3 linked regions of the Homo sapiens genome follow. The protein of the gene in region 3 purifies or fractionates together with the protein of the main gene of each other region. This does not show direct contact. Each region holds a gene or a part of one and is shown on either strand. Other genes may lie near its edges. The genes, in order: ANKRD17, NOL12 and FGF17.

Region 1 (11,079 bases), on a different chromosome or scaffold from region 3:
AGCTTACTGCAGCCTCAATCAAACTCCTAGGCTCAAGCAGTCCTCTTGCCTCAGCCTCCCAAGTAGCTGGGACTACAGGCACTTGCCATAGCACCCAGCTAATGTTTTTATTTTATTTTTATGTATTTATTTTTTGTAAGATGAGGTCTTACCATGTTGCCCAGACTGGACTTGAACTCCTGATCTCCAGAGATCCTCCCACTTTAGCCTCCCAAAATGCAGAGATGCTGAGATTACAGATGTGAGCCACCACGCTTGGCCCCCCTTTTTTTTTTTTTTTTTTTAAATAAAAAGATAATGTATCTCTCTGTTGCCCAGGCTGGAATGTAGTGGCACAATCTTGGCTCACTGTAACCTCCACCTTCTGGGCTCAAGCAATCTTCCTGCCTCAGCTTCTCAAGTAGCTGGGACTACAGGTGTGCACCACCATGCTTGGCTAATTTGTTAAATTTTTTTTTGTAGAGATGAGGTTTTACCACGTTGCCCAGCCTGATCTCAAACTCCTGGCCTCAAGTGATCTGCCCACCTGGGCCTCCCAAAGTGTTGGGATTGCAGGTGTGAGCCACCACACCCAGTGGCCCCACTTTTTGAATTTGTAAATCACATTGCTCTTTCAATTTTAACTCAGGACTCTGTTATCATTTCTAAACTGTGGTGAAGTTACCGTGGTATCAGTGAAACTTAAATCCTTAGGCCACTTCATTTTATGGGGTACTTCCAAGTGCTGTACATGATTTTTTTATTTGTAATTTTTCATTCTTCTAAAAAAGGTTCCCAAAATTTTGTAAGTTTAAGGCCCCACAAAACCTAGATCTGCCCCATCCTCTGAAACCTGTTTCTCTAATATATAAGCTGATGTTTTTAAATAACATGGCTCTGAATTAAATTTTGCTTTTTTTCTAATTGAAGTAATTATAATAATTAGAGATGTGAAAATTATTTTAGTTAGGTTCTTTTCATGAAAAGGAATATAGGCCCATCCAGGGACTCTCATGGAAAATGATGTTTATATAAGGCTATGCAGAACCATTTTCCAAACCGTCCAGGACTTAGGGATAGCTATTCTCTCTCTCTCTCTCTCTTAGAGGATTTGTGGTCTCTCACTCATGGTCTGTTTCTTGTCAGTTTCTTGCATTCTGCTCTCTTTACACCTAAACTTCTTCATAATCTTACCTTGTATATGCACATCAGTGGTTCAACTTCATAATTAATTAAACCAGTTAACCCTTTAATTCCCCATTCTTTGATGAGGAATGTGATTGGCTCAGCTCATATGTTCAAGTCAGACCATTTCAGTCAGATTACTGACTAGCCTAAAATAAAACTTGGATGGGTGCCTATCCTTAATCCAATAGTTGTGCAGAGAGGGAGCAGAAAACAGGGTCATCTGATAAAAACTATGACTAGAGGGGTGGCAGAATCTGTGCAGAGAGTAAACTTCTTAAATGGCGCAGCTCAGCGGGCAAGCCTAGTAATTCTGTTTATTAAAATAGAATGTGTAGGAGGCTGAGGTGGGAGGATGGCTTGAGGCCAGGAGTTTGAGGCTGCAGTGCACTGTGATTGTGCCTGTGAATAGTCACTGTACTTCAGTGTGGGCATCATAGTGAGACCGTCTCATAAAAAACAAAACAATGTGGAAGGTTGTTGTTATTTTGCTCTACTTTGGTTCTAGAAGGATACAGGAAATAAAAGGGAAACCAGAGTGAACACAGAGGTTAAGGTAGGCTCCCAGGGATGAACCTAGGGGAAAGCAGGATTCATTTGTTTATCCTTCTTTCCTTCCTGCCTGCCTGCCCTGACTATGTCTTGATGTTAGTTGTTCTGGGTTGATTTTTCCTAGAGGTTTAGGTGTGGCCTTTCAATATGTAGGTTTTTAAAAAACAAGCTTTTGTTATTTATCTTTGTGTTTACATTTACATGTCTGTGTATTCCTTGTAGTTTTTGTCTGTTTTCTACTGCATGTATAATTGCAGAATTTGGTTTTATTTGGTCTTTAGCTAAAATATTCTTTTACTTCTAACACTTTCCTGAGTTTTGTCATATTGTTTCCGTTTTACTAATTCTGAATTATGCTGTTCCTTCATATCATTTTCTTTTCGTTCATTTTTGAATTTTAGGTTATAGCTTTTTTTCTGGAGTGCTTTTATTGTCAACAGGAATGCTATAGGTCTTTCTCTTTTATCTTATATAATAGGCTTATTTGGAATTCAACTGCAGTTCTGTTGAATCTGCAGGTAACAGTTTTGATTTTTAAGCTTCAGACTCCTTTATTATTTATACCATTTTAGTTTAAATGTGCTTTAATATTTAAGCTTTTTTGGGAGGGGGAGGGGGGATGGAGTCATCTTGCTCTGTCACCCAGGCTGGAGTGCAGTGACACGATCTCGGCTCACTGCATCCTCCGCCTCCCGGGTTCAAGTGATTCGTCTGCCTCAGCCTCCTGAGTAGCTGGGACTACAGGCGCGTGCCACCACGCCCGGCTAATTTTTGTATTTTTAGTAGAGACAGGGTATCACCATATTGGCCCCTCGAACTCCTGATCCCATGATCCGCCCGCCTTGGCCTCCCAAAGTGCTGTGATTACAGGTGTGTGCCACCGCGCCCGGCCAATATTTAAGCTTTTCACATAAAATATAATTTTGGTTATTTTTGTTTTTTCTCAATAATGTATAGAGATTGAATCACTAATGAATAGTCTCAAATCAAGAAATCCACCTTGTTTGCATAAGTAAAAAAGATTCTCATTACCAAAAGCATGTTCTGTGAAGTACTCACAAGATAAAATAAAACAGACTTAGGCAATGATCCTCTTATTGGTATTTTATCAGTATATATAATGTTCTATAAACTTCAGTTCTAATTTGAAGAAACTTTTTTTTTTTAAACTGGACATGATGGCTCATCCCAGTAGTCCCAGCTGTTCAGGAGGTTGGGGTGGGAGGATCGCTTGAGCCCAAGAGTTTGAGGCTGCAGTGAGTTATGATCGAGCCTCTGCACTCTAGCCTGGACAATGGAGCAAGACTCTGTCTCCAAAAATACATAAATAAAATAAATAAAAAATGAATAAATAACAAAGAAACGTATTTCTTTTTCCTAGGCTAGGTTTTCCAAATTTATTAGATAGCTGAATCTCTTTTTCATCATAACACAAAGAGCAAGTATTCCCAGGGAATACAGTTTGGAGATTGCCACTACAGGCAGTGATTCTTACCCATCTCCATTCTGTTGTTGTTGGTTTGTTTTTTAATTTAAATGTCTTATTGCTTGCTACATTTTACTTAATGTCAAGGGTTAATTCATTTGAATATTATTTAATTTAATGGTTTATTACCTTTGTAGTTGAACATTTTGCAGCATTGACATCATATTCTACCTTGAAGTCATGGAACTTTAGCCAAATTTTAATATGCATCATTTTTAAGTATTATTTTTACACTTTGTTTTTCTGAGAATATATATTTAAAACATCTCCTGGTTTTAAGATTTGGTTTTATAAAATTACATGTTCTATAGATGACCTGTATTTTATTTCAAAATATCTCTTCTCTAGATTCTTCTGCACAGTCAGTATCCTCGGGAGTTCGTGCACCATCTCCTGCCCCATCATCAGTACCGTTAGGGTCAGAAAAGCCCAGCAATGTGTCTCAGGACAGGAAAGTTCCAGTCCCTATTGGGACTGAACGTTCTGCACGTATCAGGCAAACTGGAACGTCAGCTCCATCTGTTATTGGGAGCAATTTGTCTACATCAGTAGGACATAGTGGCATCTGGTCCTTTGAAGGGATTGGTGGCAATCAAGGTAGGATATTCTGTCCTGCTCTCTAGAAATTAACTTAATGCATTTAACTATAATGTAAACAGTATTTAACTTTAATAGTCATTTCCTTTTTTTTTTTCTTTTTTTGAGATGGAGTTTCACTTGTTGCTCAGGCTGGAGTGCAATGGGGTGATCTTGGTTCACTGCAACCTCCACCTCCCCGGTTCAAGCGATTCTCCTGCCACAGCCTCCCAAGTAGCTGGGATTACAGGCATGCGCCACCATGCCCAGCTAATTTTTTTTTTTTGAGACGGAGTCTCGCTCTGTAACCCAGGCCGGACTGCAGCGGCACAATCTCTGCTCACTGCAAGCTCCGCCTCCCGGGTTCATGCCATTCTCCTGCCTCATCCTCCCAAGTAGCTGAGACTACAGGCGCCCGCCACCACGCCCGGCTAATTTTTGTATTTTTAGTAGAGACGGGGTTTCACCGTGTTAGCCAGGATGGTCACGATCTCCTGACCTTGTGATCCGCCCGCCTCGGTCTCCCAAAGTGCTGGGATTACAGGCGTGAGCCACTGTGCCCCGCCTGTATTTTTAGTAGAGACAGGGTTTCACCATGTTGATCAGGCTGGTATCAAACTCCTGACTTCAAGTGACTCACCCACCTCAGCCTCCCAAAGTGCTGGCATTACAGGCATGAGCCACCACGCCCAGCCTCGTAGTCATTTCTAAAAGATCTGTATTCCTATTTTTTTTGTTATGTGAATATTTAATCACTTCTTTATGAGCTCTGTCCCCATGTGACCTTTCTCATTACATGTATTTATTACTGCTTTCAGAAAATATCTAATGCAAGCATGTTCTTTTCTTCCTTTCATCATATTAAGGACATAATAATATTTCCTTTCAGTCCCTTTAGGTTGTACTTAGGTTTTTTTCTTTTGTTTTATAACACCAAGTTTTTAGATTATTTCATTAAGCTATTATGTCACTACTTACAAACCATGGAAATATTGCTGTAAATATATAAAAGTAGGTCATTATATTGAAATAATTTACGGTTCAATGTGGAAAATATTAGAAAAACAAAATATTTGATTTTGATTTTAAATATTATCTATTTTTGTTTTGCCTCTTTGTTTGCCCTCAGACAAAGTAGACTGGTGTAACCCTGGGATGGGAAATCCTATGATCCACAGACCGATGTCTGACCCAGGAGTATTTTCACAACATCAAGCAATGGAGCGAGATAGTACAGGAATTGTAACTCCTTCTGGTACATTCCATCAGCATGTTCCTGCAGGCTACATGGACTTTCCTAAAGTTGGGGTAAAGTCCTGATTTTGTACTAGTTATTTAAGGGAGGATTTTCTGAGAAAATGTTTTGAATATAGTAGGCATATGTATAATCTAATGTTAAAATAAGTTATATAATGGGTAATAATTTTTAGATTTCTTAGATAAGTTACACATTCCCAGGATGAGGTGAACTTTCAAATATCAATTTTAAGGCTATTGATTATATTGGGAAAAATGAACAATGACTTGGATGTTAATGTGTGTGTTTTCCTTTTTTAAGGGTATGCCTTTTTCTGTGTATGGGAATGCAATGATTCCTCCAGTAGCACCTATCCCTGATGGTGCTGGAGGACCCATATTTAATGGCCCTCATGCTGCAGACCCTTCTTGGAACTCACTGATAAAGATGGTTTCCAGCTCCACGGAAAATAATGGCCCTCAAACGGTGAGGCTGATCATTCAGTGAATAAACAGTTGTTTTGTGTTTAAGAAATGCAAAGACAAATAGGATTCAGGTAACTCATGATAGCAAGAGAGTTTGGTGAATATGGGCAGTTGAGGAAATCTAATATAGCTGCAATATAGCAGAGGGCTGTGGGCAGTGGTACCAAAGGCAGGTTTGGGGCTAAAATTATGAAAGGTATTGTATATTCTACTGGGTAGCAGATAATAAATGAAAGATTTTAAGTTGCAAAGTGACTGTCATATGATTTTATACATTAAAGTTTACTAGTGGTGTGAAAAGACCATCTAAAGGTTATTTATTAAAGGTACTATAAATAACTCTGAGAATTCACATAAATGGTTGTATATTTTAGTTTAGTGTATGTTTAATATCTTTGATTTATTTTTCTTCCACAACCGTGAATCTATAAATGCTCAGGTAATGATTTTTTTTTTAAAGGTTGTAAATCAGATTCTGTTTGAGGGATAAGAGGTAGGAAAATAATAGAAAAAAGGTTTTTATCATTTTTTTCCATTAGTTCCTAGTATATTGCAAATTGAAGAGTACCTCCTTAGTTTTTTAAAAGTTTTATTTTAATAAAATATATGCTAGATATATATTTTGTAAAATGCATGCTCTATATTCATAGGTGTGGACTGGACCCTGGGCACCTCACATGAACAGTGTGCATATGAACCAGCTTGGCTGATGAGGATCAGCTTGTTAGCCTGCAGATTCCTTTTCATTTGGAGGAAATCACAAGTGGCCGAAAAAAAAAATTATGCTCCCAAATCATTCTACTGATGTGCTTGACTGAAGTGTGTAGGCTTTTTGCAGAAGATCTTACTAACTGACCTATTTTCTGTGAACATTTGTGACTGCCCATTCCCCATCATCATCCGTTTTACCTTAGTTAGCATTTTTCTTATCATTTTTCTTTTTTTCTTTCCCTCTTCCCCTTTGGACATAACTTTCTGTTGAAGCTGTTCTTTGGCTGGTTGGTTTTAGTACTGTAAACTGCTTCTGAGCAAACACGGAAATTTAGCAAAATTATGTAAACTTGATCCTGAAGTTTTAGAATGGCAAATAAATGTACAATTGTTTACATAACAGAAAAGGCTAAGCAGAAAGTAAATTTCAATATGTCAGTATAGAGGCTCTACTTTATGTAGACTTAAATTAATGTGAGATATGTACCTTCATATTCAGAAATCTGGATGTTTCCTTCATACATTAAACTATTAATAAGCATAACTTTTCTACTGGTGTAATTTAAGTATAAAGTAAAATAATGGGCATTATCATTGGATGTTTCCCCACATTGGCTTTTAAAATACCCATCTTGCTTTCTTTTTGGTTTATTTGTAGCAAGGCACATATAGAAGAAGAAATTTCTGGCTTTTCCATGTTGTTTTATTACCTTTTCTCACTTTTAAAACTAATACAGACTTATCTCCTCACTCCTTTTTCTCTCCTTACCTTTACCACTAATACCAGTAAAATTATCTTTCTGATAGTGAAAAGGTTCTGTCAAGATTTTCACTGTAATGGCTGCTACAGAGATGGACCATCTTCATCATCACCAGTGGTTTCTTCTAATTATAAAATGTTTAAACTTTCTGAGAATTTAAAAAGCCACCACTGTTCCCAGTCAGCATATACAAGCTCTTAATATTCTGTTTATTAAATAATTCAATGTACTATTTTATATTGGATGATATTGATTCTTAACATTGGCTTTTCAGTCATCAACAGTCAACATAAAAATTTCAATTTTCAGTAATTTAGTGGAAAATATCTTATTTCTTTTTTCAATTTTAAAGGCTTCCTGCTTTTTTACCCTTGTATATTATCAGTGAAAAGGATCAACAGTTAATTTGAGCCAAGTAATAAAAGAAATTCTGCATTTGTCACGAAGACAATTTATGGTAGACAGATAAATACACAGATTACAGTGTAAAGTCTCCATTTAACCTGTTTATAAAAGATACAAGGCCACACTAAACTACTCAGTGGGATTTATATATTCCATCCACTTGAAACAATAAACAGTAATGTATCCAAGAAGATTATGTGTCCTACCCTGTCTCATGGAAAAATTAATTATATGGTTGAAATGTAAAAGAAAGTAAGCATAAAAATCGAGTAATGTATATATCAATTTGTCTTCTTTTTTTTTAATTAGACATAAAATTTCACACTGGTAAAACATAAAAACTAACTAAAATTCATATAAATCACCTAGAGTTGATGATATTAACATGGTTCCTTGGTTGTCAAGTAAATCAAATGATTTCTTCCATCTGAGTAAAGAGTAAAGCCTGAGTAAAGAGTAAAAAGATGACTTCTCAAACATATCCAGAAATTTGTAAACAGTACACTCATATCTTTTAGTTTAAGAAGTGGTCTTAAAATATATAAATTTGTTTTTCCACCTATGTTTAATATGCCCAAATTTAAAGGGAGAGCTAAAAGACAGCCTACAAATAAATATAGCTATGAAATAAAATTATAGCACTTTACTAAAAAAGGGATGTAATAATGTTATTTAACGAAGTATTTTATATATGACTTGCCACTATTCTATACATAAAATTTTTTTTCTTAATTCTTTCCTGTGTTAACTAGGGTTATTTTCTATTTAAGGTAATCCTGCTGGAGAACAGATGCTATCCAATATTTATTACAACACATGAGTTGTGTTGTTTCACAATACTGAATTTCTTAGGTGAGGTATTTTATTTAAAAAGGAGGGGGAAAACTCCTATATTTTCTTGACTTCAAACCTGTGGGGCCAGGGGATATAGATTGAAATGCTCCGTATTTAGTCTTGGGGATCAGGCTTGTTTAGTACAATACCATGGTTTTAGAAGTCTGTACTAGGAACATTTTTAAAATACATTTTTTATATTTCAGATGTAATGCAGTGCACTTTTATTTGAACAATAAAAAAACCCATAACTTTTTGAGACCATGAAGGTCTTTTATTTTTTAATTTTGAAAATATGTGGTATGTGTATATGCAGACTACATCATTGTTTTAAGAAATGATTTAACTCTTGGACATTACACTTGGGTTAGTTCACACCTTAAATCCCCAAGTAGTTAATATCTCAATTATTGTATAATCAGTTTATACCATCCATTCCCAACAAAATTCCACATTTCATGCCTTTTCAACATACATTTCAACATAATCAACATATTTACAAACACTGACTTCACTGTTTATAAAGAAGAAATTTCCCCTCCTATTTCCCATTACTGAAAAGTCAAGTCATTTTTATTGATACATGAAAATTAATTTTTTTGTAAATGACTACGTATAGTCATTTTTCTCCTTTGGAAAAGGTAAATAGCTTATTAACTAATCCTGTCTTGTTCTTCACAAAAATAATAGTCCATCCGTGTTTTGACTCAAATAACCTAAATACACATTTTGTAAAAATTTTGTACCCTATATTACTTATTTTTAAAACAGTACAGTGTTAGACTAAACAGGAAAACTCAAAGTTATAAAATCTCTTCAGATCCTCTAGTTTATTAAATCTATTTTCATGTTGATGTTTTTCACAACACTTATTCCCACAGATCTGGCATTACAGAACATTTAAAGTGTACCAAAACATTGTTTTAATAACAGATTTTAAAATCAGGATTATTTCAAAATGATTAAAATAGCAAAGAACAACCAAGTCACTGCTTTTAATCACTATAAGCAGAAATTCAGTATTCCATTCTCAGTATATTTTACTTACGTAAATGAATCTATGCAGATATCTTACACTTTTAATGTTTGCTGTCCTTGACACTAAATTCCGAATGTTCCTTAATGTCTTTGGAAATACATATACTATTGATAAATGCTTGCTTAAGTCACAGCATTTGATTAACTCAGGTGACTGGAATTTAAGATGGGAGCATTATCAGTGCTTTAATAAGTCTTAATGTGTTGCACACCTTGATTGCAAAAATATCACTTGAATTTTGGATAAGTGTAAAAGAAAATGTGCTACTGTGGCTTTGACAGAATACCTTTGTAACGTAACAAAGTACAAACCTAATATCTGTGGTGTAGGAGGTTGCATATTATACTTCTGCTTTTAAATGGATTCACACTTCTGAAAAACAAAAGCCAACTTTGCATTTTCAATGCTTGAAAACCAATAATAAGAAAGATGGCAAGGGGATGTCTTTCAATAAAGAGAAAAAAGCCAATTCTAAATTAGGTAGCTTTGGTTTTGAGAAGTAGTGCCTTAAGTAAGAAAGAAAAACTGAAATCTTAATCTGATTCTAAGGGATCACTAACAATTGCTCATGGAAATAGTTTATTTCTTAAAGGTGTTTTGTTGTTGTTTTATATATACCCTAGTAAGCTACAGTCATTTAGTTTGACAAACATTTCAGAAGGCATATTTGGGAAAAGAGAAGACTAAATGATTACATGATAATTACACCCCATATTCAAATTTTCAGCACTTAATTCAGGCTACTACAACAAAAATACTGTTGACTGAGGAGATTAACAGAATGTGTTTCTCACAGTTCTGAGAGCTACAATGTCTAACGTCAACATGCCAGCCTTTATGGTTTCTGTTGAGGGCCTTTTCTCTGGTTTGCAGATGGCTGTTTCCTTTTCAGTTTCTTTGTGTAGGGCAGAAAAAGGTCATCTTGCTTTTGTCTTTTCCAAGAGACAGGATCTCTGTCACCCAGGCTGGAGTGCAGTGGCATGATCATAGCTCACTACAACCTCAAACTCCTAGGTTCATGTGATCCTCCCCACTCAGCTTCCCAAAGCACAGGGATTTACAGGTGTAAACCACCATGCCCAGCCTTGTTTCTTCCTATGAGGGCACTTACCCAATTCAAGAGCTCTACCCTTAAGACGAATTACCTCCAAATACCATCACCTTGGGGTTTCAAAAAAGAATCTGGGGAGGACAAAAATATTCAGTCCATAGCAAGCTCCATTCCTGTGTTTGGCACCATGATGGTTAAGAATTACAGAGACTGCAGAAAGAAAATGTAATACGTAGTCTCTTCTTAAGGAATTTAAAGTTGAGAAATTAACTGACATAACACTAATATCAAAGACTGGAATAAGCTAATTATAAATGTTGAACCTTTAAAAATGTTTTAATACATTGCACAAGTTCATTTGCAAAGAGGATTGACAAATGATTTCAGTTGGTCCACTCAATAGTTGTAGATCATTTTGTACTGTACTCTGAAACAAAAGATACAAAATAATCACAATGTTGTATAAACAGTACCTATACATTAGTAGTAACACTTTTCTTTTGCATTGGGCTTTAAAATTGACAACTACTTCCCCCAACATCCTCTACCAAGTAGATAGCAAGTTCTAGTCATCCCTGTTATATAGATTAAGAAATGTGTTTATACACATATATGAAATTAGCAGAAACTAAATATTCATAAATTTTATTTAGATCAATATTCAAACTTAAGGAAATACTTTTTAAAATAAGAATGTAATATATGAACACAATGTATAGCAAAAAATGTGTTCCAACACTGAAATCTCATTTGTGACCCCGATAGAACTCCACAAAAT
Region 2 (8,711 bases), on a different chromosome or scaffold from region 3:
AGCCTGGCCCTGTTGCCTGAACCTGAGATCCCTGGAGAGTATTGAGTGGAAAGAGGCAGTATCTCCCTTATTTTCCTAAATGTATCCTTTCTCTAACCTTGGGCAAGTAACCTAGACTCTGTGACTCAACGTTCCCATCTGTAAAATGGAGATTGATACCCACCGCACAGGTTATTGTGAGGGTTTTTTGTTTGTTTTTGAGATGGAGTCTGTGTCGTCCAGGCTGGAGTGCAGTGGCATGATCTCGGCTCACTGCAACCTCCGCCTCCCAGGTTCAAGCAATTCTCCCCGCTCAGCCTCCCAAGTAGCTGGGACTGCAGGCATGCGCCACCAAGCCCAGCTAATTTTTGTGTTTTTAGTAGACACGGAGTTTCACCATGTTTGCCAGGCTGGTCTTGAACTCCTGGCGTCATGTGATCTTCCCACCTCGACCTTCCAAAGTACTGGGATTACAGGCGTGAGCCACCATGCCTGGCCATTGTTGTGAAGGTTAAATGAGCTAATACTTACACTTTTTTGGAATGGTGCCTAGCACATAGTGAGCGCGGCATTAGCCATTTTTCTCCTAGAGCGAGCCCTTCTCTCCTTGTATAATGACTCTCCTGTCTCTGCCGGCTTCCTTCCTGTAGGGAGTACCTGACAGGCTTCCACAAGCGGAAGGTCGAGCGAAAGAAGGCAGCCATTGAGGAGATTAAGCAGCGGCTGAAAGAGGAGCAGAGGAAGCTTCGGGAGGAGGTACGCAGGGGGAAGGTGGGAGGGAGGTCTTTGATTCTTAGGGCACTTGCAGCCTTGGATTTCCCTAATAGAGGCAGCTGCTGGCATGGGGCGATGTGTGTGTGGGCAGGACTGGGGAATAGTTTATACAGGTGGAGACTCTGTGGGCCCGGGTCTGGGAGTGATGGAAGATGGAGTCTCCTCCTGATCTTGCAGTATGGATCATGGTCTCCCTCACCCTGGGGGTGATTAATACCCCAGCCTGAGGTTGGACTGAGAGGCCATACTCACTGTGTTCCCTGCCTGTGTGGTTTCAGCGCCACCAGGAATACTTGAAGATGCTGGCAGAGAGAGAAGAGGCTCTGGGTAAGTGGCATGCTTGGCCTGACCTGGAGAACAGCTGATGGGCCTGGTTTATACCCTTGGTGGGTGGAAGGGATAGAAGCTGACCTCCTTGGCCCTAGGGATCTTGGGGGGTACCCTGGGGCCAGGGGTGGTCCTAAGCACCTCTAAGTGCAAGTGGAACAGAGACCAGGAGAAGGAGTCCCAAACCCCATGGTTAACCAAGCCTGAGAAGAGAGCCCAGTTTTTAAGGATGGAAAGGACTAGGGGTGGAGGGGAGGGACAGCAGTAGCTGTCACAGAGGGTTTGTCTGACATGGGGACCAGCTAGAGCATGAAGGAAACGGGATCATTCACAACATTCATCCACAGACCAGGCTCTACAGCCAGTGACCTTGTGGATGCGCTCCACGTCCACAGAGTAGAGGGGGCACTGCACTCCAGGGCGGGAGGGAGGCTGGAGCCTGGTCACTCGTTCCCGTGACTGAGACCAGGTCTGTGTCCACCCCCACAGAGGAGGCAGATGAGCTGGACCGGTTGGTGACAGCAAAGACGGAGTCGGTGCAGTATGACCACCCCAACCACACAGTCACCGTGACCACCATCAGTGACCTGGACCTCTCGGGGGCCCGGCTGCTCGGGCTGACCCCACCTGAGGTGGGTCCCAGTCTCAGCCCTGGGAGGAAGGGGCGTGGGGGCAGACCAGCTTGTCAGGGTTGCTCAGTGCTGGCCCATGTCATGGGTATCCCACTGCCAGCCCTGGGAAGAAGGGGCGTGGGGGCAGACTGGCTTGTCGGGGTTGCTCAGTGCTGGCCCATGTTGTGGGTACCCCACTGCTGGGGCTCCTTCCCTTTGGACCCTTCATTCCCTGCTTCCGGGGTGCTGCAAAGACCAGCCCCACTGCTGAGCGGCTGAGGAGCTTGGGCAGGCTCCTTCACCTTGCCTGCTTCCCTTTCTCCATCAGTGAACTGGGGGTTGCTGATGGTGGCACCTGCCTTGTGGGATTGGTATGAGGGTGAAAGTGGTTAATCCATGTGAGTCACCTGGCACAGTGCCCAGCCCTGTCATAAGTGCTTCACAAAAGGTAGCCGTTTGTTGTGATCGTTCCCTTTGTGCGATTCGCAGCCCTGGCACGTCTGTGTGCACTAAGTGGGTTTTCAACCTGTGGGTTGTGAATCATGAGTAGGTTGCAATCAGCATAAAAAAAAAATATAATTGAAAATATCCGAAAGTGTCATGTTAAATATTGTTTCATGAGACAGCTGTTTCCACTGGAGTTGTATCTGGGTGTGCCTAAGGATTTATGGACATATATGCACACAATTACGATATAAAACACATTTCCTTGTGTGGGTTACTGTGTTCTTAAGTCCTGGAGCCACTCCCCTATCACATCCATACTGATCTCAGGGCCAGGCATGGTGGCTCACGCCTGTAATCCCGGCATTTTGGGAGGCCAAGGCGGGCGTTATCACCTGGGGTCAGGAGTTTGAGACCAGCCTGGCCAACATGGTGAAACCCCGTCTCTATTAAAAGTAAAAAAATTAGCCAGGGGGCCAGGCGCAGTGGCTCATGCCTGTAATCCCAGCACTTTGGGAGGCCGAGGCGGGCGAATCACCTGAGGTTGGGAGTTCGAGACCAGACTGACCAACGTGGAGAAACCCTGTCTCTACTAAAAATACAAAATTAGCTGGGTGTGGTGGGACATGCCTGTAATCCCAGCTACTCGGGAGGCTGAAGCAGGAGAATAGCTTGAACCTGGGAGGTGGAGGTTGTGGTGAGCCGAGATCGTGCCATTGCACTCCAGCCTGGGCAAAAAGAGCAAAACTCCGTCTCAAAAAAAACTTAGCCAGGCATGGTGGCGTGCACCTGTAATCCCAGCTACTCGGGAGGCTGAGGCAGGAGAATTGCTTGAACTCAGGAGGCGCAGGTTGCAGTGAGCCACGATTGTGCCACTGCACTCCAGCCTGGGTGACAGAGCGAGACTCCATCTCAAAAAACAAAACAAAACAAAACCATACTGATCTCACACCGGTCTTTCATTTTATGCTCACTATTCTGCAAGTTCTGATACAAAGACAAGTCTTGTCCCCGTTTTGCTAGGATTTTCATTCCTGAATGTTTAAGTATGTCCTGGAAGCTTCTAGGGGCAGGAAAGGGTTTGGAAACAGACCTTCCCCTGTGTAATCCTTGCTTTAGGGCAGATAGACTTCTTCCATCAGAAGCCTTCTCTAGTCCCAACCCAGGCCTGTGATGCAGCAGGGCGCGCCACCACTTGCCAGAGCCATGGTGGCTCGGGGTGCCCAGCCCAGGTCCCCCCAGCTACTGCTCCATGTAAGTCATTGTCTTGTGCCTCTTTAGGGAGGGGCTGGAGACAGGTCTGAGGAGGAGGCGTCATCCACGGAGAAACCAACCAAAGCCTTGCCCAGGAAGTCCAGAGACCCCCTGCTCTCTCAGCGGTGAGTCTTGGCCTGCTGCCTCCCCGGTCCCACCCCTCCTGGCTGGCAGTAGTGACCTGGCCCTTAGGGTGGTGTGGAGCAGGTGTAGGGCCCGGAGCAGCCCTCTGCCTGTCCAGTGATCCTCTGCCTCTCCTCATTGCCCCGTCCTGTCCCACCCACCCCTGATAGTGTCTGACCTCCAGTGCTTTTCGTGCCTGGGTGAAGGGCCTGTGTCTCTGAGCTGAGTTGCTGGCAGGCACTCTGGAGGTAGAGCAGGCCAACTCTGGCATGAACTTGGCGGTCCTGGCATTCGCAACCTGTCCTGACATCCCCTCCGTGAGCCAGGTGGTGAGTCACCCCACAATGCAATCTTAAACTGAGGCTTTCTGCCCTCCCCTAGGATCTCCTCCCTCACAGCATCACTACATGCACACAGCCGCAAAAAGGTCAAGAGGAAACATCCCCGACGGGCCCAGGACTCCAAAAAGCCCCCAAGGGCCCCTCGTACCAGCAAGGCCCAGCGCCGCCGTCTCACAGGCAAAGCACGGCACAGCGGGGAGTGAGACCGAGAACGAAGCGGTGCCCCAGTCTAGGCTGCGGGGACCTGTCCTTGCTCAGCTTGGCTGTCCCTGTAGCCCAGCCTGCACCTAGGTAATGACTGCACAGCTCAAGGTTGGGAAGCCAGGACCTCTCTGGCCTGGGGCCAGCTGCCTTTGCCTGGGGTCAGCTGCCTTTGCCTGGGGTTTGAATTCCCGAAGGAGCAGGCAGCTGAGAGCAGGCCTCCCCCAGGAAGAGCCTTCAGAGCCACGTGGGGGCATCTTCCCAAATGTGCACCCCACCTGGCACTCATCAGATTTGTGCGCTTGTGATTTGTTTGTCCTTGATACCACGCACAAGGGCAGGTTTTTGGGGTGGTGGAAATGGCCAGGGCCCATGGGTCTGTCTCCAGCAGTTAGCCCTGTGGCTGCAATAAAGTACAGTTCTCCCTGTGTTAAGATCCTAACCAGGGTTAAGGATCAGTGTGTCCGTTGCTAGAATCCAGAGCCCACCTGCTGCTCTGAAAAGCAGGCTCCTGAGGCCAGTGGGGGAGCAGTGCCCCCCATGCCCTTCACCGAGGAGCCTCTGTGCCTGTCCCTTGTCCTCGGCCCCAGGAGTCTCCTCAACTGACACTGAAGTGGTGGAAGCAGTTGAGTGCCAGGTCATCCCCCATCACCACACTGGGGCAGCGTCCCCAGGCTTCCAGCAGCTCCCAGGTGGGTCCCAACGTGGAAGGATTAATTAATTCTTTCTAAAGCAGTTGCAGCCGGGCTTGGTGGCTCACGCCTGTAATCCCAGCACTTTGGGAGGCCCAGGCGGGCAGATCACTTAAGGTCGGGAGCTCGAGACCAGCCTGGCCAACATGGTGAAACCCTGTCTCTACTAAAAATGCAAAAATTAGCCAGGTGTGGTGGCACACGCGTGTAATCCCAGCTACTTGGGAGGCTGAGGTGGAAGAATCACTTGAACCCTGGAGGCGGAGGCTGCAGTGAGCCGAGATCACGCCATTGCACTCCAGCCTGGGCAACGTTGTGACCTTGTCTCAAAAAAAAACTAAAAAATAAAGCAGTTGCATCTTGACTCGTACAAAAGTAGCCCCCACCAGAGTAGACCCTGCGGGTGCCAGCTAGAACTCCACAAGGGGCCATGTCTTCACACTCCTTCCAGATGGATGAGTTGATGGAAACCCTGTCCCTTCCTTGTCCCAGCTTGTCAGTCCTGGGCAGGAGAGAATTTCAGGTTGTGCCTTGGTTAGAGGAGCTGTGTTGGGTCCTAAACACTAGGACCACAAAGGGGAGTGAACTGTGTTCCCAGGGCTTGCTGACGCCCGTGGACTATGGAGTCAGGATGACAGGACAGTGCGGTGAGGGGCATCTGCGACAGGACTGCGGGCTCTACCCGCCCTGATGTGGGAGCTCCTGGAGTGGGGGTGAGCAGTGAGCCAGGGTCTGCAGGGCTGTCCTCTCTCCACAGCCAACAGCCAGGCCTTACAGTGGGGCAGGCTTAGTGACTGTGCCTCAGTTATGCTGTACCTGGGAGTGGGCAGGCCCTCTCCCATGTCACCATCAAAACCCACTGATGAAGGCTGGTGGGAGTCTGAGGGCTGCACCCGGGTATGGTGAGTTCCCCTCAGGGATTGTGCTGAGCGCCTTGGCCTGGCTTCTTGGCTCCGCCCACCTGCTCTCCCTGCCACCAAGTTGTCTTCCCCGGGTGGCATGTGCCACTTGGCTGCCTCGTGCCTGGGCACAGTGGTGCCTATTATGGGCCCTCCAGGTGGCTCTGGTGCTCAGCCTGCTGTGAGCAGGAACAGCTGAGTCCCAGGGGTTCTTGCACACAGCAGGGCTCGGGTTTGAATCCAGGCTCTGCTGCTTGGTCGCTGCATGAGCTTCTGCTGTGCTGACCTCTCTGGTTTGTCTCGTCATGTGTAAGGTGACACCAGATACCTACCTCTTAGGGCTGCCCCGAGACTAAAATAAGACCATGTGCATGAACCACTTACCAAAGTGCCTGTTGCTCTCCAGGTGTGCCTACCGCATGTTGCCGCTGCTGTTTCTGCTGGGACGTCTGACTCCAGTTCCTTCTCCCCTCTCCAGTGACAAGGTCATTTACAACTTACATTTACAATTTATAGTGTTTACCAGTATTAAATTCTCAGCCACTCCTTTCCATGTGTGCCTTCATTTCTTCCAGCAGACCAGGGAAGTTGAGTCACAGTGATTTGACCAATTCTAGGATCAGGGTGGTGGATTCAGAGCCCTCTGGAGAACTTGTCTTTTCTCCAGGAGCCCCTCACCATTGCTGTGGAGGCACCTGGGCTCCTTCCTCCTGTCGCTTTCCAGAGTTGGGCCTCTGAGAGATGTATGAGGAAGAGTTAAGTTTAGCTGCATATACTCTAAAACAAAATTGAAAAACAACTGGCTTGTGTAAAAGAGTTCCCATCCCAAAGATGGGAGGTTCCCAGCCTGGAGCTGGGAAGGCTGGAGGCTGGGATGCCGGGCTTCTAACTCTATGCTGTGTTCTATGTTGTGTGCCATTTTCAACACATGGCCCCTGCCTCACAGCACAAGGTGGCTGCTTGAGCTGCAGCCATTATGTCTGCATTTCAGCCAGCAGGACAGAAAAGGGGATGAAGAACATGCCCCTCCTTTTGAAAACATTTAGGGCCAGGTATGGTGGCTCACGCCTGTAATCCCAGCGCTTTGGGAGGCCAAGGCGGGTGGATCACCTGAGGTCGGGAGTTCGAGACCAGCCTGACCAACATGGAGAAACCCCTGTCTCTACTAAAAATACAAAATTAGCTGGGTGTGGTGGCGCATGCCTGTAATCCCAGCTACTCGAGAGGCTGAGCCAGGAGAATTGCTTGAACCTGGGAGGTGGAGGTTGCGGTGAGCCGAGATCATGCCATTGCCCTCCAGCCTTGGCAACAAGTGTGAAACTCCGTCTCAAAAAAAAAAAAAAAGAAAAATTGGCACTTGGCATGTCCTGTTGGCCAGGCAGGAGGCAAAGCATGAGGCAGAGGCAAGGGAGCTCTTAGCTACAAGACAGGCTAGGAACTCTTCTATTTATTTATTTTTTGAGATGTAGTATTGCTCATCATCCAGGCTGGAGTGCAATGGTACAATCTCGGCTCACTGCAACCTCTGCTCCCCGGATTCAAGCAACTCTCCTGCCTCAGCCTCCCCAGTAGCTGGGACTATAGGCACCTGCCACCACGCCTGACTAATTTTTGTGTTTTTAGTAGAGATGGGATTTTGCCACGTTGGTCAGGCTGGTCTCGAACTCTTGACCTCAGGTGATCCACCCACCGTGGCCTCCCAAAGTGCTGGGATTACAGGCATGAGCCACCCCGCCCGGCCAGGAACTCTTCTATTCTGGGAAACCAAGTGCTCAGATGAGAATTGGGGATTGTGTTAGAAAGGAGAGAATGGGGCCTGGCACAGTGGTTCGTGCCTGTAATCCCAGCACTTTGGGAGGCTGAGGTGGGCCAATCACCTGAGATCAGGTGTTTGAGACCAGCCTGGCCAACGTGGCGAAACCCGATCTCTACTAAAAATATAAAAATTAGCCAGGTGTGATGGCAGGTGCCTGTAATCCCAGCTACTTGGGAGGCTGAGATGAGAATCACTTGAACCCGAGGGCCAGAGGTTGCAGTGGGCCAAGATCACACCACTGCACTCCGGCCTGGGTGACAACAGCAAGACTCCATCTCAAAAATGAGAGAATGAGGCCAGGCGCAGTGGCTCACACCTGTAATCCCAGCATTTTGGGAGGCCAAGGCGGGCAGATCACGAGGTCAGGAGATCAAGACCGTCCTGGCTAACACGGTGAAACCCCGTCTCTACTAAAAATACAAAAAATTAGTTGGGCGTGGTGGCGGGCACCTGTAGTCCCAGCTACTTGGGAGGCTGAGGCAGGAGAATGGCATGAACCCGGGAGGCGGAGCTTGCAGTGAGCAGAGATCGCGCCACTGCACTCCAGCCTGGGCAACTGAGCGAGAATCTGTCTCAAAAAAAAAAAAAAAAAAAAAATGAGAGAATGGGTGTTGGGGTATAATCAGCAGATTATTTCACAGAAGCCAAATATATAAAGGGCTGTCATGAGGGGATCCATCTGTGTGGAGCTAAAGTCACAGCAGACATTTATCCATCCTCGGTTTTCACACCAAGGTCAGGCCCTGTGCTAGTACATGATGAGCTGTGGCCATAGTTACCTGAGGCTGGGCTCAGCCCATTAAAATAAAACTTCTTTTGGTACGATCTGTTTTGGGGTGGCCTGAGCTCTCCCCAGGGGGGTGAGGTGAGGAACTGTGGGGGCAGGTGTTCTGGGGTCATATAAGCCTCAGCGTCCATCCTTTCCAAGGTCCCAGTGGTGCTGACGACCTTGACGCCCCCAGGTTTGAGCCATTGACCTTCCTTTGGCTTGCAGGTGGCTCTGGTGAGGGGCTTCAGTTCCTCCTGAGCTTGGAGAGCTCACTGCCTGCTCCCTTGTGAGGACTGCTAGAAATGCCCGCCTTGTTCTGAGCTAGCATTGGCCTCCCCCAGCCACCTTCAGAGGTTTGCAGGCTGTTCTCAGCCTTTCTCGATCTCCTCACCTTTGAGCCACCTCCAAGGAGAAGCCTTCTCTGCCTTCCTCCTTTCTCCACCTGACCTCCCATGATAGTAGGTGTTTCCTTCTTTTAAAC
Region 3 (11,272 bases):
AGGATCACTCGAGCCCAGGAGGTCGAGGCTGCAGTGAGCTGTGATAGTGTCACTGCACTCCAGCCTGGGCAACAGAACCAGACTCCATCTCAAAAACAAAACAAAACAAAAGACATTTGTGATAACTAAATGAAGATGGAAGCCTAAGGAAAACACATATGCGTATGCATGCACACGCACACACATCCCTTTGTTTAAAGAGTCCGAGTGGTCCCCAGGAGGAGCAGCCAGGCTTGCTTTCCAGGGTGGGCACTGGGAGGGCCACGCCGCTGGTCTGGAGCTGAGCTCTCTCCCTGACCCCAATCCCACTCCTGCTCCGCTCCACCCTGTTGCAGAGCCAGCGTTAGAGACAAGAGCCCTGTGAAAAAGGTGAGTAGGACCAGAGGGCTTTGGCCCTTGGGACAGGCGAGTATTCTCTGGAGGGGGCTGCCTGGTATGGAGAAGGGAACGGGACCCTGGAGCCCTGCCTTCCCTCCACAGGCCAAAGCCACAGCCAGAGCCAAGAAGCCAGGATTCAAGAAATGAGGAGCCACGCCTTGGGGGGCACGGTGCAAAGTGGGCCTTCCCTGGGCTGTGCTGCAGGCACAGGGTGCCCCTGTCCAGCCCCTCCACCTGTGTCTGAATGCAACAGGGGTGTTGCGGGGGCAACATGAGAGCCCCTCACCCCCAACTCTCCACTTTCAGGAGGCCCCCAGTGAAGAGCCCCACCTCGGGGTCACAATAAAGTTGCCTGGTCAGGACTTTCCTTCTCTTCCCTGGAGCCAGCCTCCTTGTCCGCTGCACCAGCCCCAGTGCCCGGCAGAGGGCAGCCTTGAACCGGTGCACCCGGGCCCTGAGGTCATACCTGCCTCCCTGCACCCAGCCCCCGCGGCCTGAGCCTGCTGTGTCCCTCGTCCTCGGCACCCCCAATTCTCCCCCAGTGGCGAGGGAAGAGCCTAGAGTCTGCCTTCTGCTGAGCTGTGTGTCAGGTGGATTTCCAGCCTGCACCCTCCCTCTGGGCAGAGCTAGGTTTATAGGCACCCAAGGGCTACGGCTGCTCAAGCTACCAGAAGGGGCCTCGCCCTAGGGGGCCAGCCCCCAGGGTCTTCTCCTGACCTTATTCCTGTCAGGCAGCTACTGTGTGCAGAGCATCTATAGGGAACTCAGGGACATCCGCTCTCCCTGCTTGCTTCCGTTAGGGGCCAGCTCATCTTATAGGGACCTCCCACATGTGAAGATCTGTGTCAGGCAGGAGCCAGAGGCCCGCACCTTCAAAAAAACCTTTGAGGTGGAGTAGACAGGGTGAGCTTTACAGAGGCGCCAAGCCCCACATGCTATCGAGTAGGCCTCAGTCAAGCATAGGGGCGAGGCCAAGAGAGGACTGGAAAATGGGGTGGGGGACCCCCACCCTCTCCCTGGTGTGCAGAGGGGACTCTGGAGGGCTGTTCACCTGTGGGTGACCCTGGCGCAGTTCCTAGAACAGGCGGACACACAGATGAGCCCTACACTCTGGGTTATCCATGCAGCGCCTCTGCTGGCTTCTCCCTGCCCCTCCCCAGCACCCTCTGGGGTCAGGCCCGAAGTGAACCAGTGGGGAGCTGGTCCTGCTGTCCTGCTTAGTACCCCCAGGTATGGGGCCCAGGAGGTCGGAGCTCTTTGAACACCTGCCTAGGAAAGTCAACAACCAGGCTGGGGCCTCCTGTCCAGCTATAGCTTCTTTTGAGACCAGAGACAGAGGTAGCAGAGGGCAGGGTTGTATTCATTTTTTTTTTAATTTTTATTTTTTTTAGAGACCGGGTCTCACTCTGTCACCGAGGCTGGAGGGCAGTGGCACAGTCTTAGCTCACGGCAGCCTCGACCTCCTGGACTCAAGCAATCCTCCCACCTCAACCTCCCAAAGTGCTGGAACTACAGGCACGAGCCACCACACCAAAACAAATTTTAAAATTTTTTGTAGAGATGGGGGGTCTTGTTAAGTTGCCCAGGCCAGTCTCCAACTCCTGGGCTCAAGAGATCCTCCTGCCTCAGCCTCCCAAAATGCTGGGATTACAGACGTCAGCCACTGCACCCACCCAGGGTGGCATTCTCCCTGCATGTTTCCTACACCCATGAGACAGATGTGGGTGCTGTCCTGCCCTCCAACAGACAAGCCACTAACTTTAGGTCACCCAGAGTCCCACCCTCCAACAAAGGGACAAACCACTAACTTCAGGTCACCCAGAGAGTGACAAGGGGGACTGCTCCATGTGAGCAGCTGGTGCTTTTTGAACTTGGTTTCATCTACAGTGACCCGGGGTAACCCAATTCCTCACCTTCAAGTCACTTACAGTCTAGTGGAAACAAAACCCAACACAATTTCAGTTACTGTCTGGTGCTTTGAAGGGAGTGGAACAGGTGAACTTGAGGGGCAGGAGGAAGCAGTTTGGTGAGAAGGTCTCCTGGAGGAGGCAACGGACAAGAAGGGCTCAATGGGCTTCATTAGGAGCTGGCAGAGGACGTTCCTGGGAACAGGAACAGAGCATGCAAAGGGTCCGAGGCAGAGCCCCACTTGAAGGGGGATCGGCTGCAGTGACAGCTTCTAATACCCACGACCCACTCCTTCAACCCTCATAACCGTGCCTTAAGGGGATTGTGACTGGCTCCATTTCTTTCTCTTTTTAATTTTTTTTTTAGATACTGGGTCACACTCTGTCAGCCAGGTTGGAGTGTAGTGGCACGATCATGGCTTACTGCAGCCTCGAACTCTGGGCTCCGCCTATCCTCCTGCTTCAGCCCCCTCAAGTAGCTGGGACTACAGGCATGCACCACTATACCCAGCTCATTTTTTTTTAACATTTTTGTAGAGATGGGGATCTCACTATGTGGCCCAGGCTAGTCTCAAACTCCTGACCTCACACTATCCTTCTATCGGCCTCCCAAAGTGCTGGGATTACAGGTGTGAGCCACCACACCTGGCCCAGCCCCATTTCCCAGATGAGGAAAGTGTGGCACAGAGAGGTTAGACAAGTTGCCCCAAGGTGACACGGCTGGCAGAGGAGCCAGGGAGTCCCACCCCAGAGCCCTGGATTTTGACCACTCTGCTGATGGGAGGGAGGCATGAGCCGGTGCACAGTTTATGAAGTCGTGTAAACTGAGAGCAGGAGTTAGAAGTCAGTCAACCATGTAATGGGAGTCCTCAAGGGACAGCTAGGCGTTTCTACAGCCAAGCGCATATTTGGCCCCAAGCACAAGAAGGCGCGCAACAGATAAACCAGTGATCACTTGATTTTGATTTGCAAGCAGGCAGTAGGAAATAAATTGCAAAGGTGGAGGCCGGATGCAGTGGCTCATGCCTATAATCCCAGCACTTTGGGAGGCCAAGGTGGGCAGATCACTTGAGGTCGGGAGTTTGAGACCAGCCTGACCAACACGGAGAAACCCCGTCTCTACTAAAAATACAAAATTAGCTGGGTGTGGTGGCGGGCACCTGTAATCCCAGCTACTTGGGAGGCTAAGGCATGAGAATCATTTGAACCCAGGAAGCAGAGGTTGCAGTGAGCTGAGATCGCGCCATTGCACTCCAGCCTGAACAACAAGAATGAAACTCCGTCTCAAAAAAGAAAAATTTGCAAAGGTGAGGGTCCATCCTCATTGCTAGGGTGCCCTTTGCCCTCTGCCCTTTGCCCTTCCCCTGCCCCAACTCTTCTGTTTTTCAGCAGGAAGAGGGTGGGCTGGGCTCAAGCAGGTGGTGGCAAGTGGCTGACCTGCAGGTGGGCTCTGTGTTTGCACCAGCTGGGCTGTTAGGAGAGGCAGGCGTGAGACGACCCCAGCTGGGGGGTGTTGAACTTGGCACTATGGGGTGAGGATTAACCACAGCAGCCCAGGCTACTTCTCAGTTCCCTTATCACCTCCTGAACCCCACCCCCCCAGCAATGAATGTTAATAAACCCCACCCTTCTTCCCTCCCCCTTTCCCCGAGCTCACTCCAGTCAAGGGAGAGAGTCTGACAGTTTAGGTCAACTGAGGCTAAGCCACAAAAAGGGCCCCTGCCCCCATTCTTGTGGCACTTGATGCGTTTCTGTGAGTCCTTTATCTCAGCTGACGTGGATGGCGGTGGTTTTGACAGTATCCCTGCTGGTAGCCATTTCCTTTTTATAAACTGGGACCCTGAAACCAGAGAAGTGAAGGGACTTGCCACAGGTCACACAGCGTATAAGGACCAGGGCAAAGGGGCGGGGATAAAATCAAGGGCTCCATGCTGCCTCCCCACTTGGGGCCCACCACTGGCTTCCCCATGGGCGTAAAGGAGCAAACCAAGTTAGAAGGCCAGGCCTGCAGGTGCCCAACAGGAAGGGACAAGGAGCCACAGCTGTCTTGCCTGTGACACAGGCCATCCAGCCATGCCCAGAGCTAACCCCCTGGCTAAGCCCCGAGGCCCAGCTTGACTGCTGGCATCTGTTACCATGGAGACCCAGGCTGGCCTGAGGGCTGGGCCAGTGATGGCAGGCCCTGTCCCCATGGATAGAAACAGGTGCTTGGGCTCAGAGGCCTTGAGTGGCTCCCACTGTCCCCATGGCCAGTGAGTCCCGACAGCATAAATTGGAACCGTTACCCACCTTTCGCCCCCCAGCTGACACCTCCACCAACCCAAGGCCTGAGCTGTCCCCTCCACGTGTCTGTGCTCTCTTTAATGCCCTGCCTGGGGGCTGGGAGTGGTGAGGATGTGGATGTGAGGTTGAAGGTTTCTCAGGGAATGAGCCAGAGCTGCCAGAAGAGGCAGAGTGTAACCCAGACTGCAGATGATGGGAAGAACGCGGAACAGAAGTGACCTGAAGGATCCGCAGGGGGAAAGCAGAGAGGTGGGCACGCGGGCACCTGGTACCTTGTCCCAGCCATGCCACCAGCTAGCTGTGAGGCTTTGGGCGAGTCCCTTGCCCTCTCTGGCTCTCATCCAAGGAATGAGGAAGTTGGAACAAATGATGAATCCCTAAGACCCCTTCTAGGTTTGACATTCTTTGAGTTGCATTCCAAAACCCTGGACTCCCCCAGGTAAGCAAGGCCAGGGCTTGCCCCATCCTCCCCACACAAGCTCAGGCAGCACCCACTCCTGGGCTGGGTTCCCGAGGAAGAGCCTGCGGAGAGGAGACCCCGGAGCTGCCTGCACTGGTCAGTGCATGGGGGCAGGGGTGGCAGACCACTTTGTGGATTGATGGAGCTCAGGAAGGTGAGAAGGGACCCACAGGTGAGAGTTTCGCTCCCCTGGTCATCTCTTTAGGTAAATAAATCCACATCCGCCACTTCCCCTTCCCTTCCCACCCTGGGGGCGCTGAGAACTCCAGGGAGCCCAGAGCTGAGGCCTGAGCTCTGCTTGCTCACACTGGGTCTTCCCTCAGAGACCCCCAAGCCCTCCTATCTTCTGCAGTCACCGTCATCCACTTTTCTGTAGGGAGGGAACAGCATGGAGCTCTCTGTTCACCGGTCTCCAGGACCTCGGATTCCACCTTTAATCCTGAAAACCCAGGAAGGCTTCTGTATCCCTACAATGAAGCAGGTTTGGGGCTGGATCTGCAGGGTGGCAACTCAATCCATGCAGAACAGAAGAAGCATGGACTTTTCCATTCTGGCTATTCCATTCACTAGCTGGGCCATTCTGAGCAAACTACCTCCCAATGTGCCTCAGTTTCCTCATCTGCAAAATGGGCTAGTCGCTGGCATTGTACCGAGCAGTATGAGACCGGAGGTCATGGGAAGAGGCTGGTAGGCACTTCATCCCAGGCAGCTGCTCAGGGACATGGGACACAGGGAGGGGACTCCGAGCTGCTCCTAGCTCAGAGAGGCTCTAGGGACAGGCACTGGAAGGAAGGGGATGCAGAATGGTGAGTGGAGCTGGGTCTCAGAACACAGACATCTTGAAGTCTGCTATGTGCTGATTTCACACTTGACCCCCCAACACCCTGAGGCATTACTGTCCTCATTTCTCAGATGGAACTACAGAGGCCCAAGGAAAAGGGGCTTAGGCCAGGACACCCAGCTCTTCTCCAAGTGTCTGTCTCAGGCTAGCTTTTGCAACTCTCCATTGGGATTCTTCCTAGATCTCCATCTGTACCTGCCAACCCACCTCTGACCCCCAACCTGTTGCGCCCAGTATTTGCTGCCGATCAGGACAGCCTTAACCCCTCCTTCCCGGGCAATCAGCTGCTCCAAGCCAAGCCCACCCCTGCCCCCTGGAGGGAGGCGGCTCCTTTTAAGGCTGCTTCTGGGAATTTCCACTCCAGAGCCAGAACCAGAGACCCCAGCCCCACTTGACACCTGCGGCTCACCCTTGGGGAGGTGGGGCGCCAGACCTGAGTGCAGGAGACGCAGACCTGGAAGGGCTCCCCCTCCCTGACCTGCCACACATCGAGTTTGTCTGCGTCGAGTTTGGCCAGTCTGTGAGGGTCAGGAATAGAGCAGGAGACAGCAGGGCCACCTCCTTCAGAAGGCCCCCACCGCTCCATCCCTGCACTGGGTGGCCCAGGAGAGACTGGCAGCCCAGAGGGCACAGCGCGCACGCCCCCACCCGCATCTGCTTTGCAGCCTCACTGGCCAGGAAGGTGGACACCTCATACCTCAGTCTCCCAATTACGCCCTCCTCCTCCCCCTCCTCCTCCCTCTTTTCTCTCCTCCTCCTCCCCTTTCTCTCCTCCTCGCCCCCCTGAAAACCTGTGGCTCGGAGAGACCTTGGCTTCTCTGGGACTCTACCCCTGGGGACTTCCCACATCTGCTCCTGAGCTTGGGGGCAGGGGGGCAACCGCCTGAGGAACCTCTCCAGCGATGGGAGCCGCCCGCCTGCTGCCCAACCTCACTCTGTAAGTGTGCTACCTCTCCCACTGGAGTTTCGTTGCCATTTCCAGCCTCAGGGCAGCCCTCCTCTTCCCGGGACTCCCACGCGTGCGTGCACGGGGCTGGCAGGGCGGGGGCGGGGGCCTGGGTGCACCCTAGGCTTGCAGCTGGCACCCACACCTGGGCTTACCTCCTCTCCCCACACAGGTGCTTACAGCTGCTGATTCTCTGCTGTCAAACTCAGGTAGGCGGGCATTCCCACCGGCTTTCCCCCAATTTTTCCACCCTACCTGACCAGGGCGGGTGCAAGGGACCGGCTCCTTTCAGGTGGACAGAGGCAGAGTCTGGCCTCTCCCTGGGTCCAGGAGGCACTGAGGTTTGGAGGGGAGTGAGCCTTTGACCGGGTGGGCAGGGAAGGGGGCTGACTGAGGTTTTGTCTCTGTCCTCCCTCTGAGGACCCTCCCCACTTCCCCTGGGTCTCTGCTCCTCTTCCTCCCTCTCCATCGGGTTCCCCCAGACTTGAGGGATGGAGCCTGGAGCGGTTGGAAGCAGGTGGAGGTGATGGCTCAGGTGAGGCTTGGGTTTGCCAGTACCTGAAAGGACAGGTTTTGATGCAAGACCACTTGTATGTCCTTCTCGCCACCCCACTCCCATCAATATGGATGCCTGGGGTGGGGGTCTCGTGAGCATGTCCAGAATGCCTGGCCAGGGTGAGGTGACTCCTCACCTAGAGGGCACAGAGGTCAAGCCCAAAGAGGTTTGTTTGGGACGGGATGCAGGGTTCGCTTCTCCACACTCCCCCCACCCCAAGTCGGCCCCCCACCTCCCTCCATGCACACCTCCCACCCCCAAGTCTCAGCCCCCAGTGCGAGGCTTGCTCCCTTTTTTGTGATCCTCCATAAAAGTGCAGCTATTAAAATGCACTGGTCCAGAACCGCTCTGGGGAGAGATCGCTTGGCTTTCCCAGGCCAGAGGCCCGCTTCTCTTCATATCCAGTGGGGACTTTTTTTGAAGGTAAATGCCTTTTCTCTGGGAGAGGGAAAGGGGCAGCCTTTGAAGCAGTGGGGGGGTGGGAGAGGGAGAGACAATTCCCCCCCCCTTCCTTCCCCCTTTTGCTCCAGCCCCGTTCCAGGCCTTTTGCTTCACACATCCAGGGGGAGCCAGAAGAAAGCCCCCAGCCTGGCTGGGAGGGGGCTGGGGGTGGGCCCAACCTGTTCTGGAGGGGAACTAGCACAATGGTGCGGCTGGCCGGGCGTTTATGGCCTGGCTGAGGCCCCATTCAGGACTCAGGGAAGGTGGCAAAGCGGTCCTTTCCCCCTTGAAGTGCCCCCTCACCCCCCTGGGAGGGGGGGCCAGCAGGCCGGACCACAGCCATGCTTGAGGGGCTGTCTGACAAGCAGCTGTCTGCAGTGGTGGAAGGGGAGGTCCTCCCGCAGCGGGAACATGAAAGGGACAGGCTAGGTCCCGCGGGGAGAGGGACTTGTGGGTTGTGGGCTGTGGGGGGGCGTGGGGCTGCTTTTGTGAAAAGCTTGAAGGGGGACGAGGAAAGGAGGGGGCTTCGGGGGGGCGCTTTCTGCTCCTGACCTGGAACAGACTGCCAGAGGAGGCCGTCGGCCAAGAGGGGCGGAGGGCCTGAACCTGGGCCAGGAGGCGGGGCTGGGATAGGCAGGACCCCACCCCCTGGAAGGGAGGCCAGCGTGGGGCAGGCTGGGCAGGTCCCCCACCCCAAATGCTCCAGGGTGGGGCGAGGGGCAGGTCTTGCAGAGGCTAGGCAGAGGCTGCTCTATGGGGAGGTGCAATTGGAAATGAGCAACGGTGCACAGTAAGTGTTAACCCCGCGCAGGTTAAATGTCCAGCTCTGAGAGCTGCTCCCTCACTCCCCCTGCCTCAAAGGTGATATTTCCCACCCCCTCCCTAGGAGAGAGTAGCCCCTAACAGATGCTAATCTGGGTCTAGCTCTGTCCAGATGGCTGAGGTTGGGCCTGGGATAAAGGTGGAATTAGGGATTTGGGGCAGGGGCTGAGAAAAGCTGTCCCAGCACAGGCAGCGGCATCCAGGTGGAGACAAAACCAGCAAAAAAGGTACATTCTCATGCTAGAGCTGAGGCTGTTGCCAGGAGCCAGGAAACCTAGCCCGGGTCGCACCTTGCAGGATGGAGGGGAAGAAGTACTCAGTCTCTCCCACTCAGCCTTACAGATGGGTAACGAGAGACCTAGCTGGGAGGCGGTACTCCTCCTGGCTTTGCACAGTGCGTGGGGGGAAATGGTTCCTCTCCCCCAACCCAAAGGGGAAGCAGGTGGGCGGGCGCATCCCACCAACTGGCCAGGAGCCTCTGTTACATTGTGGCTAAGGAGCTGCCTGCCAGGGGCAGCCATTGGGCCACCGCTGATAGTGCCTGTCCTCTTGGTACTGCCTCTGCCTCCCTCCGCTAAGGAGGCACCTTGCCTGCCTGCTGTCCCATAGTGCCCAGCCCCAGCCCCAGCCCCAGCTCCAGCCCATAGAGGAGGGAGGAACACTGGAAGGGCCCTGAGCACCAGGGGGCAAGGCCGGGAAGAAGATGGGTATGAGCTCAGGATTCCACAGTTAGTGCTTCAAAGAAATGCTCATGGGACCCTGCAGGAGCTTTCAGAGTCCCCCACATGCTCTCTGGTGACCCTAACTCGCAGCACCATCTGCTCTGTGCCCGTGTGCTGGGCAAGGGGTCTTTCAAGGCCAGTGGGGAGGATGAGGAAGGAATCTGGTTGTCCTGGCTAATGGAGCATGTCCTTGGAGTTCTGGGGGAGATGACAGGCTCTGGTCTAAGAGGTAGGGACAGGGGTTCTGTCCCTAATGAGCTGTGTGCCCCGTGCACCTCCTTCATAGAATACGAGGACGGGATAGAACCCTGAGGGCTCCTTCCAGCTCCCAGAGTCCTGATTCCAGGGCTGTGCTCTGTCAATAAGTGTCCCCCAGCCTGGGCAGACCCCAGTCCCTTCTGTAAGGTAGACGCAAAGCAAAGAGGTTATGACCGGCTCACCCAGGGGCCTGGGAAGGCTATGGCCATATGCCCACTTCACTCTGCAGGACAAGTGGCCTGTCCCCACTATATTCACCTCCTCACCCCTCTCCCTTGGATGGACCAGTGGTGGTGTCACCCAAAGCAAATTGACACTATTTTTCCCTTGGTAACCGCAAAGGGGGAGAATCACCCGTCTCCTAATTTTAACCAGTACGTGAGGGACCAGGGCGCCATGACCGACCAGCTGAGCAGGCGGCAGATCCGCGAGTACCAACTCTACAGCAGGACCAGTGGCAAGCACGTGCAGGTCACCGGGCGTCGCATCTCCGCCACCGCCGAGGACGGCAACAAGTTTGGTGAGAGTTGGCCCTCCCCCCAGGGCACCCACACCTCCACTCTGCCTCACTTCCACCCTGCCTCACCTCCTGGTCCATCCCCAGATCCTGTGTCAGGGCTGAGGGCCCCAAGGGCCTGAGTGTCCCCAACCCCTTCGCCTGAGTCTGGAGGTCAGTGTGGCTGGGTGGTCCCCTGCTGTAGCCATAGGCCGGCAGCCCCGATGGACGGAGGTCTTTCTCCCCTCCCCCACCACAGCCAAGCTCATAGTGGAGACGGACACGTTTGGCAGCCGGGTTCGCATCAAAGGGGCTGAGAGTGAGAAGTACATCTGTATGAACAAGAGGGGCAAGCTCATCGGGAAGGTGAGGCTGGGAGACTGGGAAGTAACAGAGAATCAGCCCTACTGGGGTGGGGACATATAGGGCATCATGCTCCCCTCTCTCCTCTGAGCCACACACCCTCCTGTGTAAAGACTTCCCATCCTACTCTCAGCCCACCCACTGGGCCACTCTCTGGTTTTTATTTTAGAGTCCGGGTCTTGCTCTGCTACCTAGGCTGGAGTGCAGTGGCACAATCATAGCCCACTGCAGCTTTGTACTCCTGGGCTCAAGCAATCCTCTCGCCTCAGCCTCTGAAGTAGTAGCTGGCACTATAGGTGCATGCCACCATGCCCAGCTAATTTTTTTTTTTTTTTTTGTAGAGATAGGGCCTCACTATGTTGCCCTGGCTGGTCTCAAACTCACGGGCTAAAGCGATCCTCCCACCTCAGCCTCCCAAAGTGCTGGGATTACAGGCGTGAGCCACGGAGCCCGGCCTGGTTTCTCTATTTAAATGAGTCCCCGGGACTCTATTAGCCCTCTGAGGGGACTGGCAAGCCACTGGGATCTGTGGGGCTGATGTCAGGAGTATTTCTCCAGCAGGCATCAGTAAGAGCTTAGCATCTACCTGACACTGCAGCCTCTGGGTGGAGGACTAAGAGCTGTTGAGGGTGGAAAGTGGGGCACAGATGTAAGACAGGAACTCCCCCAAGTTCAGTGGGGCCAGTGGGCTCCAGCTAGCAAGATAGACACTAAGCAGCTGCCCCTGTGACCAAAGCACACGGTAGGCCGGGCCCTGCTGGGTGGGAGAATTCCACTTCGTTTGAAACCAGGCAATCCC

The links.
Region 1: the proteins of FGF17 (region 3) and ANKRD17 purify together in Homo sapiens (co-immunoprecipitation; 2 studies listed by BioGRID and IntAct, with this or other methods). This does not show direct contact.
Region 2: the proteins of FGF17 (region 3) and NOL12 purify together in Homo sapiens (co-immunoprecipitation; 2 studies listed by BioGRID and IntAct, with this or other methods). This does not show direct contact.

Annotation. Positions count from the first base shown.
Region 1 is NC_000004.12:73,071,362-73,082,440, reverse strand, and holds the end of ANKRD17 (ankyrin repeat domain-containing protein 17), read left to right. Parts: intron 1-3,550; coding exon 3,551-3,799; intron 3,800-4,907; coding exon 4,908-5,086; intron 5,087-5,336; coding exon 5,337-5,501; intron 5,502-6,150; coding exon 6,151-6,210; 3' UTR 6,211-9,065; downstream 9,066-11,079.
Region 2 is NC_000022.11:37,687,281-37,695,991, forward strand, and holds the end of NOL12 (nucleolar protein 12), read left to right. Parts: intron 1-629; coding exon 630-735; intron 736-1,031; coding exon 1,032-1,080; intron 1,081-1,569; coding exon 1,570-1,712; intron 1,713-3,416; coding exon 3,417-3,514; intron 3,515-3,893; coding exon 3,894-4,056; 3' UTR 4,057-6,194; downstream 6,195-8,711. UniProt on the Homo sapiens protein: Multifunctional RNA binding protein that plays a role in RNA metabolism and DNA maintenance. Participates in the resolution of DNA stress and the maintenance of genome integrity by localizing to sites of DNA insults.
Region 3 is NC_000008.11:22,036,158-22,047,429, forward strand, and holds the start of FGF17 (fibroblast growth factor 17 isoform 1 precursor), read left to right. Parts: upstream 1-6,662; 5' UTR 6,663-6,771; coding exon 6,772-6,806; intron 6,807-6,987; coding exon 6,988-7,024; intron 7,025-8,391; exon of another isoform or gene 8,392-9,815; coding exon of another isoform or gene 9,816-9,956; coding exon 9,957-10,134; intron 10,135-10,369; coding exon 10,370-10,476; intron 10,477-11,272. Other genes in the region: NPM2 (nucleoplasmin-2), read left to right, coding at 336-369, 481-525. UniProt on the Homo sapiens protein: Plays an important role in the regulation of embryonic development and as signaling molecule in the induction and patterning of the embryonic brain. Required for normal brain development.